Regions from separate parts of the Homo sapiens genome. Here region 1 is linked to region 2. The links come from fine-mapping of genetic effects on gene expression. A gene starts in region 2. The other region holds a variant in brackets. All regions are shown on one strand. Distances are from middle to middle.

Evidence for each region. PIP is the estimated chance that this variant, and not a neighbour inherited with it, causes the effect.
Region 1: its variant is fine-mapped to the expression of PROSER1 in whole blood (TOPMed, PIP above 0.99).

Annotation. Positions count from the first base shown.
Region 1 is chr13:38,988,104-38,996,451 of GRCh38, forward strand. STOML3 (stomatin like 3) reads right to left here and starts at 2,728. Exons shown (of 7, transcript NM_145286.3): 1 at 2,567-2,728. The coding sequence starts at 2,618. The variant A/G (reference allele first, on the strand shown) is at 4,019.
Region 2 is chr13:39,034,736-39,043,083 of GRCh38, forward strand. PROSER1 (proline and serine rich 1) reads right to left here and starts at 3,354. Exons shown (of 13, transcript NM_025138.5): 1 at 2,463-3,354. The coding sequence starts at 2,507. It overlaps NHLRC3 (NHL repeat containing 3), which reads left to right and starts at 3,721. Exons shown (of 7, transcript NM_001012754.4): 1 at 3,721-3,988; 2 at 4,401-4,553; 3 at 4,829-4,976; 4 at 7,370-7,570. The coding sequence starts at 3,905. RefSeq lists an enhancer at 1,583-1,692 and a silencer at 2,835-3,064.

The DNA.
Region 1 (8,348 bases), 47 kb before region 2:
TATATCATATATTTTATATATTATATTTTATATCATATATTTTATATCATATATTTTATATATAATATATTATATTTTATATAAAATATATTATATTTCATATAAAATATATGATATTTTATATCATATATTTTATATATAATATATTATATTTTATATCATATATTATATATAAAATATATTATATTTTATATCATATATTTTATATATAATATATTATATTTTATATATAATATATTATATTTTATATCATATATTTTATATAATATATTATATTTTATATCATATATTTTATATAAAATATATGATATTTTATATCATATATTTTATATAAAATATATTATATTTTATATCATATATTTTATATATAATATATTTTATATCATATATTTTATATATAATATATTTTATATCATATATTTTATATATAATATATTTTATATCATATATTTTATATATAATATATTTTATATCATATATTTTATATATAATATATTATATATCATATATTTTATATATAATATATTATATTTTATATCATATATTTTATATATATTATATATTGAAATTTTATATATTTGATATCAAACACATCATTAAAAAGGTGAAAAAATAAGTGACAACTGGAAAAACATATTTGCCACTTATGTGCTGTCAGGTATATCAAGTATTCATAAGTACATATTACAAGTTATATATTATAGTATATAGTATATATAATTATATATACTATAATACATAATATATATTATATATGCTGTATTATATAATATATATTATTACATATTATATACTATACTATAGAATACATAATATATATACTATATTATACAATATATTATATATACTATATTACACAATATATTATATATACTATATTACATAATATATATCATACATTATATACTATATTATATAAGATATATGTTATATATGTTATATTGTATTATATATATTTTTTATATATATCTGAGTTGCAAGGGCAAACTTAGTCCACAGATCTCAGAGAATGGTCCACACTGTATCTCTCCTAAAAAACTACAAAAGCACAGGAAATCAGACATTGCAAATATATCAGCCCCATTTTGTTCATTCTGTGATAGTGCCAGTTTTTCATATTCAAATATCGAAACCAAGAAAACTCATGAGTACTTTCAAGAATCTCACTGATGATACAGCTTCAGTCATGCCATCTACCCAGTTGATGTCTTCACCTGTTAAAATGGAAACTAAATGTCTCATGAAGGATAAATAAGGGGACTCTTGAGATCTCCCGCTTGCATTTCCAGATGATATTTACTGCCTTCAAGCTTTTCATGCCTACTTCAAAAGAAAAGTTTCTTTTCCAATTCAGGTAAATGTCTCTAAATGTATACTTTTTCTTTTTTCTTTCTTTATTCCATTTTTTTTTCTTTGTTAGGCAGGGTCTCACTCTGTCACCCAGGCTGGAGTACAGTGGTGCAATCTCAGCTCACTGAAGCCTAAACCTCCTGGGCTCAAGCAATCCTCCCACCTCAACCTCCCACTTAGCCACAGGCATGTGCCACCACACCTGGCTAAATTTTGTATTTTTTGTAGAGATGAGTTTTTGCCATTTTGCCCAGGCTGGTCTCGAACTCCTGAGCTCAAGTGATCTGCCTGCCTTGGCCTTCCAAAGTGCTGCGATTACAGGGCATGCACCAGTGCATGCAGCCTAGTTTTTTCTTTTATGTATTAGTAATGCCAAACGTGTTCTCTATTTCTAACATGTACTATGGCTTTTTTGGCAACATAAGGTACAGAGCACAGGTTAGGTCATACACACACGCACACTCACACCATCATCACACACACACACACGCACACCATCATCATAATCACTTTCTGAACAACTTTTTAAACTTTCCAATGCTCAGTTTTCTCATTTGTAAAATGAGATTCTAAGAGGATCTACCTCAGAATTATTGTAAAATTGAAAGAGATAATGCAAGCAAAATGCTTTGTAACACATAATAGTCATTAGTATTAATGATAGTAGTTGGTACTTATAAGCTAAGTTTTTTTTCTCAACTTCTCTCCATTTATCAAACAGGATACAGCTCAAACCAACTTTTCTTTTTAATCTCAGCATCATCAGAAAATGTTTGAAGTTGGAGAAAAGTCAGCCTCTTCAACATATCTTTGTTATTTAATACAAAAAGAAGAAATACAAAGATAAACACCAATTCTATCTAAAATTGAATGAAAAATAAAGCAAGTTATAGACTGCTGTTCAAGAAGCAAATGAAATCAGCATAAGCAATGAATTCAAAATCCTGAGAAGGATTTCATACAGAAAGAAGAAATTCAAAGATAAACACCAACTTTATCTAAAATTGAAGGAAAAATAAAGCAAGTTATAGACTGCCGTTCAAGAAGCAAATGAAATCAGCATAAGCAATGAATTCAAAATCCTGGGCTATAAATGAAATTGAGGCCGATTTCTGCAAATATATCTCATACTTACTCTATACCTGTCTATAATGCTACAACTCCTGCTTTGCCATATATGTAAAAAACAAGCCTAAGACAGGAAAAAGGAACTTACCCACGAAATTCTCTTTATCTTGCTTCTCAGGTGAAGACACCCTAGAATCCATCTCATTCTTGAGAAGCTTTTATACTTGGCAATTTTTCATGGGTTTGGAGCTAAGTGTGAAGAACAGGCAGCAACTCAGATGTGCTTGGGAGAGGGGAGAGGAGAAAGTATGAGAGAGTGAAAGACATTCCTTCTCTTTAGTGAACTCCCTAAGGGGTAGTTACCCTGGTGAGGGAAGCCTGATAACATAAACAAAAAGATTTCTTTTATGAGTTCAGACTGCCTTTGTTCACAGAAAAAACTTGAAAGAATATGACCATCTGGTGGTATTGCTTCCTGTAAAATATTGCTGTGTAATTTTCTATAGCATTTATATTTCATAAAACACTTCTATGCACCTTGTATAAATCTTGTGTGATCACTGATTACACAATGACCTGTTCAATACACAGGGCAAGTGTATCCATCCTTATGTTTCAGATGAGAAAATTTAACCCAACTCATTCTAACACTGCAGTGAGTGAGCTTTTGAAACTCAAATCTGATCATGTCTTCATCCTGCTTAAAATAATCAAAAAATTGCCAACTGTCAATATTGTAAAGACCAAACTCCTAAGTGTCCTACAAGACCCTGCTGGCCTGCCCCTTCCTCCCTTTCCAGCCTCACTCATGTGTCTCTCCGTGAAGCAGCTCCATTGGTCTCCTATCAGTGCCTCCAAAGCTTGATATGTCTTCTCGCCACCGGATCTTTGCACGTGTTATCATATGCATAATTTTTTGGCTTGTGTCTGTTTCTTCTTCTAGACCAAGAATTGACAAACTTTAGCTTGCCAGCTAAATTTAATTTACCACTTGTTTTTAAAACATAAAGTGTTATTGGAACACAGTATGTCCTTTTGTTGCTTTCTTTTTTTTTTTTTTTTTTTTGAGATAGGATTTCACTCTGTTGCCCAGGCTGGAGTGCAGTGGCACAATCACAGCTCACTGCAATCTCGACCTGCCAGGCTCAAGCAATCTTCCTACCTCAGCCTCTTCAACAGCTGGGACTCCAGGTGCACACCACCATACCTGGCTAATTTTTAATTTTTTTTTTTTTTAGAGATGGGGCCTCACTATATTGCCCAGGCTGGTCTCAAACTCTGGGCTCAAATGATCCTTCAGCCTTGGTCTCCCAAACTGCTGGGATTGTAGATATGAGCCACCATGCCCAGCTCTTTCATTTTTGTATTGTCTGTGCTCACTTTTGCACTGCACCCGTGGATTTGAGTAGTTGTGACACAGACCATACAAGCTGTAAGGCCTAAAATATTTACTGTTTGTCCCTTCACAAAAAAAGTTTGCTGACCCCTGCCTTGCACTATACATTTCCATGAGGAGAGTGACTTGGTCTAACATTTCCATTGCATCTGCAACAATTAGAACAACGTGGGCACATGATTGATGTTCAACAATACTTGCTGA[A/G]TGAATGAATATATAAATCACAAATGAAAACAGCTCTCAAATGGCAAAGCTCTTTCTCAAATCCAGATCCTTAGGATCCTGTACTAGGATTCCTTCTTTCATCAGACCACATAGAACCACAGACAATTTTGTGGTTATTCCAATACTAAGAACACCAATTTTCTAATTTTCTGATGTTCATTTCTCTCATATCAATATCCCAAATATATCTTGTTTTTCTTTTGTATACCATTATATTTATTGTATGGCATTTATTATATTATATTGTATTATTTTGTGAAAACAGTAGAAAAAATCTCTAATCTCTCCCTGGCCTTCTTGTCTTTTCTGGTTTTTCTTCTGCCAACCACCTAGTTATTTCCTTCTTTGCAACTTCATCTTAAAACTTTTCTCAGATTCCAGCCTGGGCAACATGGTAAAACCCCATCTCTACTAAAAATACAAAAATTAACCAGGCATGGTGGCATGCACCTATAGTCCTAGCTACACTGGAGGTTGAAGTGGGAAGATTGATTGAGCTTGGGAAGCAGAGGTTACAGTGAGTCAAGATGGCTCCACTGCACTCCAGCCTGGGTGACACAGCGAGACCCCAACTCAAAAAAGAAAAAAACAAAAGTAAAAAATTTTCCAGGTTATGGGTTATTTATACCAACTACTTGATAATCTTGATTGCCTTTTCCACAAACTCAAATTGTGGAAATAACTACTATGGCTGTCATCCACAGTTTGTAATTACAATAATTAATACAGAGTTTTAGAAATTTAGGAAAGGAGACAAGAACACAGATTAAAACAGACATGCATAATGTGTGCAGAGTCAGCAACTGTCTGCTCTAGGATAGTTTTCTCTGCACCTCCCTTAAACATCCTCGCTTACAGCTCCAAGTAGAAATGTTGCTGGAGGCACAGTGGGCAGGAGAGAAGGCTCTGGGCTCATACTGCCCAGATACAAAGAAAACTTTGCTCTGTCATGAACTAGTGTGTGACATTGGGTAAGCTATTTAACCTCTGTGTTTTATTTTTCTCATCTGTAAAATGGGGATGGTAATATAATATTTACCAAAGAGAGTTGCCTGTATGAGAATCTTATGAAAATTACATGTAAAATATTCAGAATAATGACTAACATTAATAAATGGTAACTATTATTACCATGAATGGAAGCTGGGCTGTATTTCTAAGGACTGAGTTAACTTCTCTCTACAATGGCAAGATTGGGCTAATTTTCACAATGTCTCCCTTGTCCCCTAATTTCAAGTGAAAGGAAGACTGATAGAGATTGATTTGGTATGTCCATACATTTATCAACTCTCTTCTCTCTCTGATCTAATGCTACCTTAAAAACTCGAGGCCCATTCCTGGTCTGTATTGTCATATAATTGCCATCCCGTTTCTTCCGGCCTCTACTTTATCACCATGTCATCATCACTTTGTAACTAACCTCTCATGGAAAGAGCAACAGAAAAACTTCCTGTTTCCATCATTTCTCCCGACTTAAGCCAAAGACAATCTTTGCCTGGAACTGAAAGCCCCTTTCCCTTTGAGTCAGATGCTTCTCCATAGTCATACAGCAAAGTGTTCTGGAGGTGCTAGTTTAGCTTATTTCTAAATACATTTTCTCTTAATATTAGCCAAATACCATTTATGCTAGCACTGCCAGTCACTGAGGTGGAAGGTTCAAAGCAACAGAAACAATAATTATTCCCTGGGAGCCACTACAAAGAGCCTCAAGAGTGCTTGCTATGGTCCATCCCTTTGGAAGATGACTAAGCAACTGTTTTTCTTTTTCCTAAAGAAAGTTTCAAATGTCTCAGCCTAGAAAGCAAGAAGGGTTTCAGCAAGCAATGAACACCTATGACAAACTGAATCCTCATAGCAGGGCCTCAGGAAATGAAACATGAGCTCATTTTCAAGTTTCCTACTTCTTTTTCTGTAAAATATAAATTAGCCCAGTGGATGAATTATTATCATCTGTGGATGTTCTTTCACTTATCCTGGGAAAGGAGGATACGGGAATTTCTGGAAGATGCTTCGGATGAAGACTTTTCAGTGTTTCTGCATTTTCATTTTATCAATTTCTGCACTAGTGAAAGTACTGAGATGAGGACAGCTTTTTATTTTATTTATTTATTTATTTTTTTTGAGATGGAGTCTCTCTGTCACGCAGCCTGGAGTGCAGTGGTGCAATCTCGGCTCACTGCAACCTCCGCTCCCCCTGTGCCAGGGGTCAAGCGATTCTCTGATGCCTCAGCCTCCCAAGTAGCTGGGATTACAGTCATGTGCCACCACGCCCAGCTAAGTTTTGTGTTTTTAGTAGAGATGGGGTTTTGCCATGTTGCCCAGGCTCATCTTGAACTCCAGGCCTCAAGCGATCCACCCAACTCAGCCTTCCAAAGTGCTGGGATTACAGGCATGAGCCAATGACCCTGGCTGAAGACAGCTATGTTTTTAAAAGGCCTAATTCTATTCCCACTCTTGACATACAGGACATGTGTCCTTAAGTATGTATATATTTTTTTCCCTGAATGTTCACCTTATAGCACAAACCCTCTCTTGAGACAATCCTTTCTAAACTTCCACCTATTTCCTTTCCTAAGCTTCTGGTTTCAGACATCACCCACCATCCTTTCTTGCTAAGATGTATCCAGGTGTTCCAGGACAGTGGCTGCTCTCTTAAGAAAACATGCCCTTTTCTTTAAATTGAAATTCTCTGATCTCTTTAACTTTTTTACGAATATACATCATACATTCTAACTTATCCATTCTCATTTATTCCATTCTTGAATTCCCACTTTTTTTTTTCTTTTTTTTTTTTGAGATGGAGTCTCACGCTCTGTCACCTAGGCTGGAGTGCAGTGGCCCAAACTCGGCTCACTGCAACCTCTGCCTTCCTGGTTCAAGCAATTCCCCTGCCTCAGCCTCCCAAGTAGCTGGGATTACAGATGCACGCCGCCACGCCCGGCTAATTTTTATGTATTTTTAGTAGACACGGGGTTTCACCATGTTGGCCAGACTGGTCTCGAACTCCTGACCTCAGGCAATCCACCCACCTCGGCCTCCCAAAGTGCTGGGATTACAGGCGTGAGCCGCGCCCTGCCGAATTCTCACATTTTAAAATGAGAAATTCGGTCTCCAAATCTGTAAAGATATTTATAGTGATAACTCCCCAAGCTGCAAATCTGGCTTATACCTCTCTTCAGAATAATAAATATTTTTAACTATCGGCTGACGAAACATCTCTACCTGGACGTCCCCCAATTAAATATTCTATACGTTAGAACGAAATCTATTGAATTAAGGCGTTTGTATTATGGAATACTGTTGATATATTTAACATGTATGTATTTATTGAATAAAGTAAACAACCATCAATATACCACACAACAGCACCACTAGAATATTACCAATACCATTGAAACTACTTGCATATTCCTCCTGGGTCTCATCCTCACCTCTCTAAAACCGTAATTTATAATTTTGTTGATTATTCTCTTGCTTTTAAAATAGAACCTTTTAAATTATATATTTACATTTCTAAAACACTTATGATTTAGTTTTGCTTTTGCCTTTTTAAAAAATACCCATGTAGGCTGGGGGCGGTGGCTCATGCCTGTAATCCCACCACTTTGGGAGGCCGAGGCGGGTGGATCACGAGGTCAGGAGATCGAGACCATCCTGGCCAACATGGTGAAACCTCGTCTCTACTAAAAATACAGGAATTAGCTGGGCATGGTGGCGTGTGCCTGTAATCCCAGCTACTCAGGAGGCTGAGGCAGGAGAATCACTTGAACCGGGGAGTCAGAGGTTGCAGTGAGCCAAGATTTTGCCACTGCACTCCAGCCTGGCAACAGAGTGAGACTCCATCTCAAAAAAAAAAAAAAAAAAAAAACTCATGAGTGCTCTGCAATTTCCTTTGACATTCCATATTATGTTGCAGGAAGCTATTGCTCTTTAATTTTTAGTGCTATTTAAGACATAGAAGTGTAAACGGGCCACAGTTCACTTATTTATTTGGATACTTTTAGGTTTTCATTATTACAAATGATACTATCATGAATGTTTTGTACATATCTTCTGGTTGTGTATACATGCAAGAGTTTCTCTAAGGCCCTAAAATCCAGATATATACATCTTGAGATGAAACTGTTATATTTTATGTTCAACTTTACAAGATTATTGTAAACAACTTTGTAAAAATATTTTCCAAAGTAGTTTATGTCAATTTAATCTTACTAGTCGTGTACAAGTATTCCTTTTGTTCCAAATCATTGATGGCACTTGTTCATACTTGACTATCTGGTCAGTGTAAAATAGCATTTCATTATAATCT
Region 2 (8,348 bases):
GTAGACTTTGAGAGGCATTTTAATTCCTTTTGAGCGTCCTCATTCATAGAGGGAACACCATTCACCAACCTCAAAGAATTACTATGAAGACTATAATAGTGGACATTAGATGTGACATATAACAGGTATTCAGTAAGTGATGGTTCCTTTCCTTTTCGGAATCTATCAGTGGGTGAGAGAGAAGTTGGTGGCTTTGATGCAGCACTATCTAGAGCCCACTAAATCACACATGCTCCCCTTGCAGCTATTTGCTCAGCTTAGAGATGGAAACAGCTATCTTAAGTCAGTAGCCACTAATCATTAAAAATGAACTAATCCCTTTGCTTGTACTATAAAATAATTTTAATATTCATATTTTTCACATATATCATTCTGCTAGGAGAAAGTATTATGACCAGTCAACTGAAATATCCTGGGTGCTCAGTAGTTCAATATTCACTGAAAAGGGAGAAAATGGCATTCTAAATAATGTATTCCTAGGAGTTTTATTATCAATGTAATAATCGGACACAGTCAAATACAAGTTTCTGAACAAAGTCTTGGATTGTACTGATGCCAAGTCATATCTCAATTCTTCCATCAATGCCTGAGAGGCCCAGCTGTAACCCCAGGCAGGACAGCATGGTGCTCTGCAAGCATAGTTTGAATACTGCCCCCAGCCCCCAACTTACCACCTAGGGAGTCTTGAGCTGATAGTTAACCTCACAGAGAATAGGCCACCAGCTATAAGCAAGAAGTACAGTGCCTACACCTCATGCGTTGTAAGGAGAATCAAAACAAATAATGACTGGAGAAAGTGCTTAAAAACAGGCTCACAAAGTAAGTGCTCACTAATTAATAGCTATCATTCCCTCCTTTTTGAATAATCAGTTAACCATTGCTTTTTCCCCCTTTCTACTCCCTTTCCCAGTTCTTCTGCTAGTGGCTTCTTATATGCCTCTGTTTTAAATGACAGTAGTGACAATCAGTATTATCTATCATATAAACTCACTGTGATACTCAAGAGATGACCTGGTTTAAACTGACTTACATTTACAAAGAACGATTTTTAAGAAAATCAGTAGTAATGCTCATATTTAGATATGCCAATATTTTATTCCATTTTAATAGACCATGACAATGTTGATGTGTCTAATCACTCGGCAAAGCCAGCAGAAGATATATTTTAACTGCTGACCAGAAATACAGACTTAAGTTGCCATCTCATGTGAACAACACTTTCATATCTGGAAAATTTCCTATTCCCCTCTTTAGAATTTACTGTGACGTTTTTATGACACCAGGAAGAGAATATGCACACTGAGACCCTGTATCTTCCAAAAGTAAAAATCTGCTGGTCTACTTGGACTCACCAATTATTTTCTCATGAAAAGTAATTAAAAATCAGCCCAAGAACAAATTGTGACAAATTTCTAGGCATATAATTAGCAAACCAATATTTTATTTCAAAAATTAATTGGACACTTAGGTTTGCAAAAGCAGAACTTGTTCAAAAAAGAATGTTCAGTATTATCAAATATGAAAACTTAAACACGTCAATTTGAAAAAAGAAAAAAGCTGTATAAAAACAAAGCAAAACAGCAAGACCAGAGACAATTTTAATAATAGCTTTGTAAACTGAAATAAGCACCAGAGCACATGGCAACAATTTCTTCCGTTTCAGTCAAGGGTCGTAAAGGTATGCAGCTGACGAAAGAATAATTGCCCGGAAGGCCGAAGGAAAGCACCGTGTGTTGATGTAACAATGGTACATCAAGTCCTTACATTTTAAAATAAGTAACTTCTCGGTATTTTTGTGCTTGAGATATTGTTAGGCTCAAGACTACCTTCCAGAATTGTTGCTGTCTGGTTCACTCTGGGAAATGCGATCCACACAACAGCCTCAAAAAGCAGCAAAAACTTGGAAAGCAGGAGAAAAAAGTTTTGAAGCTCAAGTTATTGACGGCCAATTCCTAAGAACGTGACTTTAAACTTAATGCCACACTTACCATCAGGACACGAATTTTGCATGGCCAACGCAACAAATATACTCTACCTTATGCTTAGATTTGAAAACCCCATCATAATAACTACCATAAAAGAAACTTTCTGCGTATTACCTCTCGTTTTCAGTCACTCTTGTGTTACTGAAAGATGAGGCAATAAACTCAAAAATATTAAACCCCTTACCCAAAAAGTACAGAGCTATTACGGATTTGTAAAGCCGGCTTTGGAACCGAGGGCTTTACAAATGTAATTCCCACGACACCGTGCTGAGTCTCAAATTTGGCGTTAACGTAACTTAATTTCTATTTGTACTGGAAACGTATCAAGATATAAACTCCTCCATTACACGTGAAAATTCAAACCAATTTGGCAATCCTAGGACCCTTATTCTGCACAATCTCCATACAGTACCTCAAAGAGAGTCTAAAACACGAGAATTCATCTCATAAAATAATTCATGGAATCGGTCTAATTACCTTTCTAATTTCATCCAGCACCATTTCAAAGGACTTTTTATCCATCTTGACTACTATCCCGACGTGGTTTTAACAGTTATACTTGCAATTAAAAGACGTTCATCCCTGGTCTGCTCCGCCGATAGTAAAAAATATTTATAGCTGAGGAGGAAAAAGACTCCACGAGCAAGAGAGGATGCGAAGAGGTAGAGAGTATTGCAAACTTCGCAAAAAAAATTTCTAAAAATTGAGATTCAGAAAAACTCTTTTTATTAAAAAGAAAAAACACTCCAGTCAGGCTTCCCCAGCTTATTCACACAATGGTTCAGGGCACCTCGGGCAAGAGCCAGGTCCTCTGAGTTTTGCAGAAAAACCCGGGCTCGGCGGCAGGTTTGAGTGCGGTTTCCCTGCAGCTGAGGGCCAGGTGCCGCCAGAGGTAGCTCTTGAAGGCGCTTTCCCAGGTGGAGCGGCCGGCAGAGTAGAAACACCTGCGCTCAGAGTCCACGGGCGGCGGGGAGGGAGGCGCCGGTCTCTCGACCCGCACCTGCGCCTCGGCCGCCGGCCGCGACCCTCACCGCCGCGAACCCGGACGCATGGTCCGGCTCGCGCTCATCCCCAGCCGCTCCGCCCGACTCCTGGATACCTCGGCCCCGGCAGCAGGCGGCCCGGCAGGCTCTTTGTTACCAGCTGCTGCAGCTTCCGGGAGCGGGCCGGCGGCTGGGGAGCACCAGGAGCCGGGCGAAGAGGGGCACGGCCTCGCATAGGGGGACTCCGGAAAAACGCAGCCCCAACAGCGCCAGACGCCCTGCCTGGTTACCCCTACAGCCCCCACCAGCTCATGGGGACCTACAATAAAGCCAGTCGCGCCCAAGTAAACTCAACACTGCGCCGCCAGCTTGGGCCCCTCTTTCCTGAAAGCCAGAGGTGGGGTCCTGGTGTGGGAATATAGGCATCCATAGCGGATGCCTGGATGGTAGGAATAGGATGTGGCAAAAATCCTTCCCGAAGCCTAGCGGTCATTATTTTGAATGTCATCCCCACCATACCTCGTGTCTGAGTGTGCGATGTTTTGATTTTGCCCTCTGGATTAAAAAGAATAAATGGCGAGCGATTAAGGCATATCTACGGGCGCCCATACTTTGGTGGCCACTGAAAGTCAGCGGCGCGGACTGCCCTGAGGGCGGGAAAGGGTGGTCACTGGGTCAGCCCGAAGCACCTGACATGAGGGCGGGGACCCCGAAATGCACACGAAGTCCGGAACTGGTCTTCTGTGATTTTCATTCGCCCTGGTCTCTGTTCCCTTTCGTACTCAAAGCTCGTGCATCCAGGGAGGGGAAACCGGAGATAGGGTCTTCGGGCCCCGGGCAGACCCTCTGTGCCGCTGCAAACCGTTGCAGCCTGAGGCTGTCAGGTCCTCCCCCAGACACCTGCGGACCCTCCCTCTCCTGGCTTCCCGTCTGGTCATGGCGAGATTCTGGGTCTGCGTAGCCGGTGCTGGCTTCTTTCTTGCATTTTTGGTTTTGCATTCGCGTTTTTGTGGCTCTCCAGTGAGTTGGGTAGTGAGGAAATGACTGTCGGGTGTGCGGGTAGCCCTGTTGGGAGGCGTCGCCACGGTCGTGGCATGGAGGTGGCAGGCCCTGGTTCCCTCAGTAGCTTGTCTCAAAGCCTGCACCTGGGTCCAAACTGCCTTGACCCTTTGAGTTTAAAAATTTGTGTATGTTACATCGCCATTTTCCTCTTTCCCAACTCTTACTACATCCTCAAATAATTTGCAGACTTGTATTGTGGTCGTGTTGGTCTTTAGGCATCTAAGCTCATTTCTTTGGAATTATTTCAGTCCAGCAAACTTCTAGTTGTCAAGGCATGCTTAAAAATAAGCCCTGTTACCCGGCCCCCCCGCCCTTTTTTTGTTCTTACCTAGACGGTAAACTAAATCTGAATTGTCTGATTTTGTTTAAGGTTTTGAGGAACTTTACTTTTGCAGTTTCCTGGAGAACTGAGAAAATTCTTTACCGGCTGGATGTGGGTTGGCCTAAGCACCCAGAATATTTTACCGGAACAACATTTTGTGTTGCAGTTGACTCCCTCAATGGATTGGTTTACATAGGTCAAGTAAGTAAATAGAGATTTAAAAAAATTATGAACACAAAGGAAGTAACAGCCTTCCTGTCTTGCTGTAGTAACTGACCATATGCGTTTATATCATGCTAATTGTGCAATTTATTTTTGAGTTGGTCTCAAGTATTTTGGTTTCGAATGTGAAAGATATGTTAGATTTTGAAAGTGGTTTTTGTAGTAAAATTCTCAGTTATTTTTTTTCTTCGCCAAGATACAGATTACCTTTCCTTTAAGCTGATCCTAAGAAGTTATTTTTTGTATACCTTCAGAGAGGGGATAACATCCCAAAGATATTAGTGTTCACAGAGGATGGATATTTCCTACGAGCCTGGAATTATACAGTTGACACACCTCATGGTATATTTGCAGCCAGTACTCTATATGAACAATCCGTCTGGATCACGGATGTAGGAAGTGGTATGTATAGTAATATCTATTAAATTATCTTACTGGAAATCACATCTTTGCACATGTCCTTGTTTGTATTGTTTAAAATCAGAGTTGCTGAATCTAATTGTAATTTCTTTAACGATTCATGAAATCACATGTTTTTAACAAACTTTATTTTGTACTTCTGTGGAATTAAGAAATTTAACAAGGGCTGGACGCCGTGGCTCACGCCTGTAATCCCAGCACTTTGGGAGGCCGAGGCGGGCGGATCACGAGGTCAGGAGATCGAGACGATCCTGGCCAACACGGTGAAACCCCCGTCTCCACTAAAAATACAAAAAAAAAAAAAAAAAATCAGCCAGGCGTGGTGGCGGGCGCCTTTAGTCGCAGCTACTGGGGAGGCTGAGGCAGGAGAATGGCGTGAACCCGGGAGGCGGAGCTTGCAGTGAGCCGAGATCGCGCCACTGCACTCCAGCCTGGGTGACACAGCGACACTCTGTCTCAAAAAAAAAAAAAAAAAGAAAGAAATTTGACAAGGAGCCTGTTAATATGATCTTTCCTTGAACTTGTCTAGGGTCTTTTCCTCTTTAAAGCATCAGTTGCTCTTCTCAGATTAAATAACTCTAAACTGAAGCCAAATAAAGTGGCAGTCTCTGAAAGCAATGACTGGAATCCTTGACTCTTATTTTCCTTTTCCAGTTTTCTTTCATAAAAGATTGTGAAATCGTAACTGCTTTGTTGCTCAAAGTGCAAAGATTGCAGAAACTGTTGTTAATGTTTTTGAAATTCTACTGACTGAAGCATGTCTGAAATCTTCCTGCCATCAAATATTTTTAGTAGAAAAAGCTGAAAAATGAAGTGAGCACAACTGAATGTGCAGCTATGGAGAAAGTTTTCAGAGAAACAATTCACCTGTGGCTGTAGCTTAAGACAAGGCAATACCTGAGATATCCTGGCATTACCCTAGGAATTCAGGAAGAAATGGGATTATAAAGACATTATTTCTAGTATTCCTTGGCCCAGTTATGTTCTTGAATTGAGAGACATCCTGGTTCTACAGTCCTGGCTGATTCAGATACCATTTTTTAGAGATAATGAGTTCTCAGTTTCTGTAAGTAGTGCCATTATCACAGCTGTTCTCAGAACCCATAAGATTTCTGGGCCTCAGCTGATGGCCCATTTATTTCATGCTGTGTTTTACATAGTATGAATCTGGTTCAACCAAAAAAAGTCTATAGATTATCACTGAGTGAATTGTTAATACTATAATGAGAGTCTATTTTCACTTTTTTCCTGAAGATCCACTGTTAAAGACCATTTCTTTGAGTTCATTTTATTCATGTGATTTTTAAAAATAAGACTTCCTTGATTCCCAGAAATAAAAAGAGCACAGACGATCTCTTCATTTTTTCCATTACAGCTAATTTTCTACCCAGAGATCTGAAGACAGTTTTATATTCCCATTTCCCAAAGGAATAAATTTCCTCTAATGAAAAATATGGCTACAAATTAGCCTTTTTTTTTTGAGAAAATTTTTTATTGGTAGTCTTTTTTGCTAGTTTTTAGAAACTTGGAGGCTTATGTGTTTTTTATTGCTATGAACTTTAGCTCAACTGTCTAAAAGTGTAATAGTAAATAAATTATTTAACATAGAATTGTAATGCAAGCTGATTCACTTTCTTTCTGGTAAGCTCAATGTATCCAGTTTGTCTTTTGAATACCTATCAATTAATTTGGCATATGTACCTTCAAATTGATTTCTGTTCACTGCTTTATGATATTCCCTTATTAGTAGTCTGCTTTATGCTCTTGCTTGTAAGATAATTTTAACTTAAAGAAATTTTAACGTGAGAAAATAAGATACTCATGATTTACAAAGATTATTTTCTTCTTAGCAAAGAAAAGTTGGGTTGAATTTTGAATGTCTCCACAAGGTGAAAATGCAGTTAAAAAAAAAATCTGTACCATAGAGAACGTTTTTGTTGACTTACTGAAATTTAAGGTCTGTATGTGAGTGATTGAAATAACAGTTTCAAATATAAGTTGTTCCCTTTACATTTTCTTCTTGATTTCCTTTCATAAGCAATGCTTATTCAAGGTCATAAGATTAAAAAAGAAAATGGTGCACCAATACTTTGTTAGCATTCTGAGTTTCCTGTATAATGAGTCAATTATGGGGATGTTATTTATTTGAATTTAGAATCCGCTTATTTTGGACTAATGGAGATTTTAATTCGTGATCAAATTTGGCTGTAATTTACGAAGAAGCTATAGTGCTTGTCAATTATATGTAATTTCCTAAGCCTATCACCTATTTGTTATTATTTACTTCTATCAAATTTTTGCTCTTAGCTTACTTGAAAAATCTGAATGTTTGTATAGTGGTTTTATTTGTGAGATGTACATATCTATCTTTATAGGATTCTTTGGTCATACTGTTAAAAAATACAGTTCTTTTGGTGATCTTGTTCAAGTCTTGGGTACTCCAGGCAAAAAAGGCACTAGTTTGAATCCTTTGCAGTTTGATAACCCAGCAGAATTATATGTAGAGGACACAGGAGATATTTACATTGTGGATGGAGATGGAGGATTGAATAACAGATTGATCAAACTGTCCCAAGGTACATTACTTGTTTATGGTATTATAAAAATATTATAAATTGATTTTAATTTGTTCGATATTTGGTATAATGTTTTAAGTGTTGTGTATGAAGCGGTGTGTAAAGAGCTAAGTGTATTACTACGAGAAAACTGAAAAACAGATGGGTATGATTGCCCACAATAAATGATCCTGATAACAGGCCCACTTATTCTTCACCAAAGGCCAGGAGATTCCTCCAAAAGTAACTGGCAACAGTATGAGAATTTCTAGTGGGCTCAGGAGATAAGTGTGTATCCTATTTAATTAAGCATGTAGAAATTAGAAACCTAGAATCCCAGACTCAAGTATCCTACAGGCTGATTAATCAGCAAGCATTTTATTGAGTGCCCTTTCTGTGTCCTCTCTAGTATCAGGAGGTGCAGATCTATTATGTATTGAAACAATGAAATGTAGTCTATGCTATTGATTCTTAAAGCAAAATGGACTTAGGAGGAGAAACTAAATTGCCTGGAGAAATAGAACAAGATATCATGAAGGAAGTAGTTATTGAACTAAACTAGTTTTGGTGGGAGGAGAGGGGAGGATGGATGGAACATTCATGGAGGGTTTATCATGCATGGTCTACAGGCATTTATTAGCAGGAAAGAAGGTGAAGATGCACTTTTTCAGCAGCAGAAAATACAATTTGGGATGTTTCTGAAGTCTTATTTGAGGATTATTAAAGCCATGTTTTTGCCTATAACATTTTTGAGGTTTTCCTAGTAGAAAAGTGATGTTACAACAGCAGGTTTTATAAG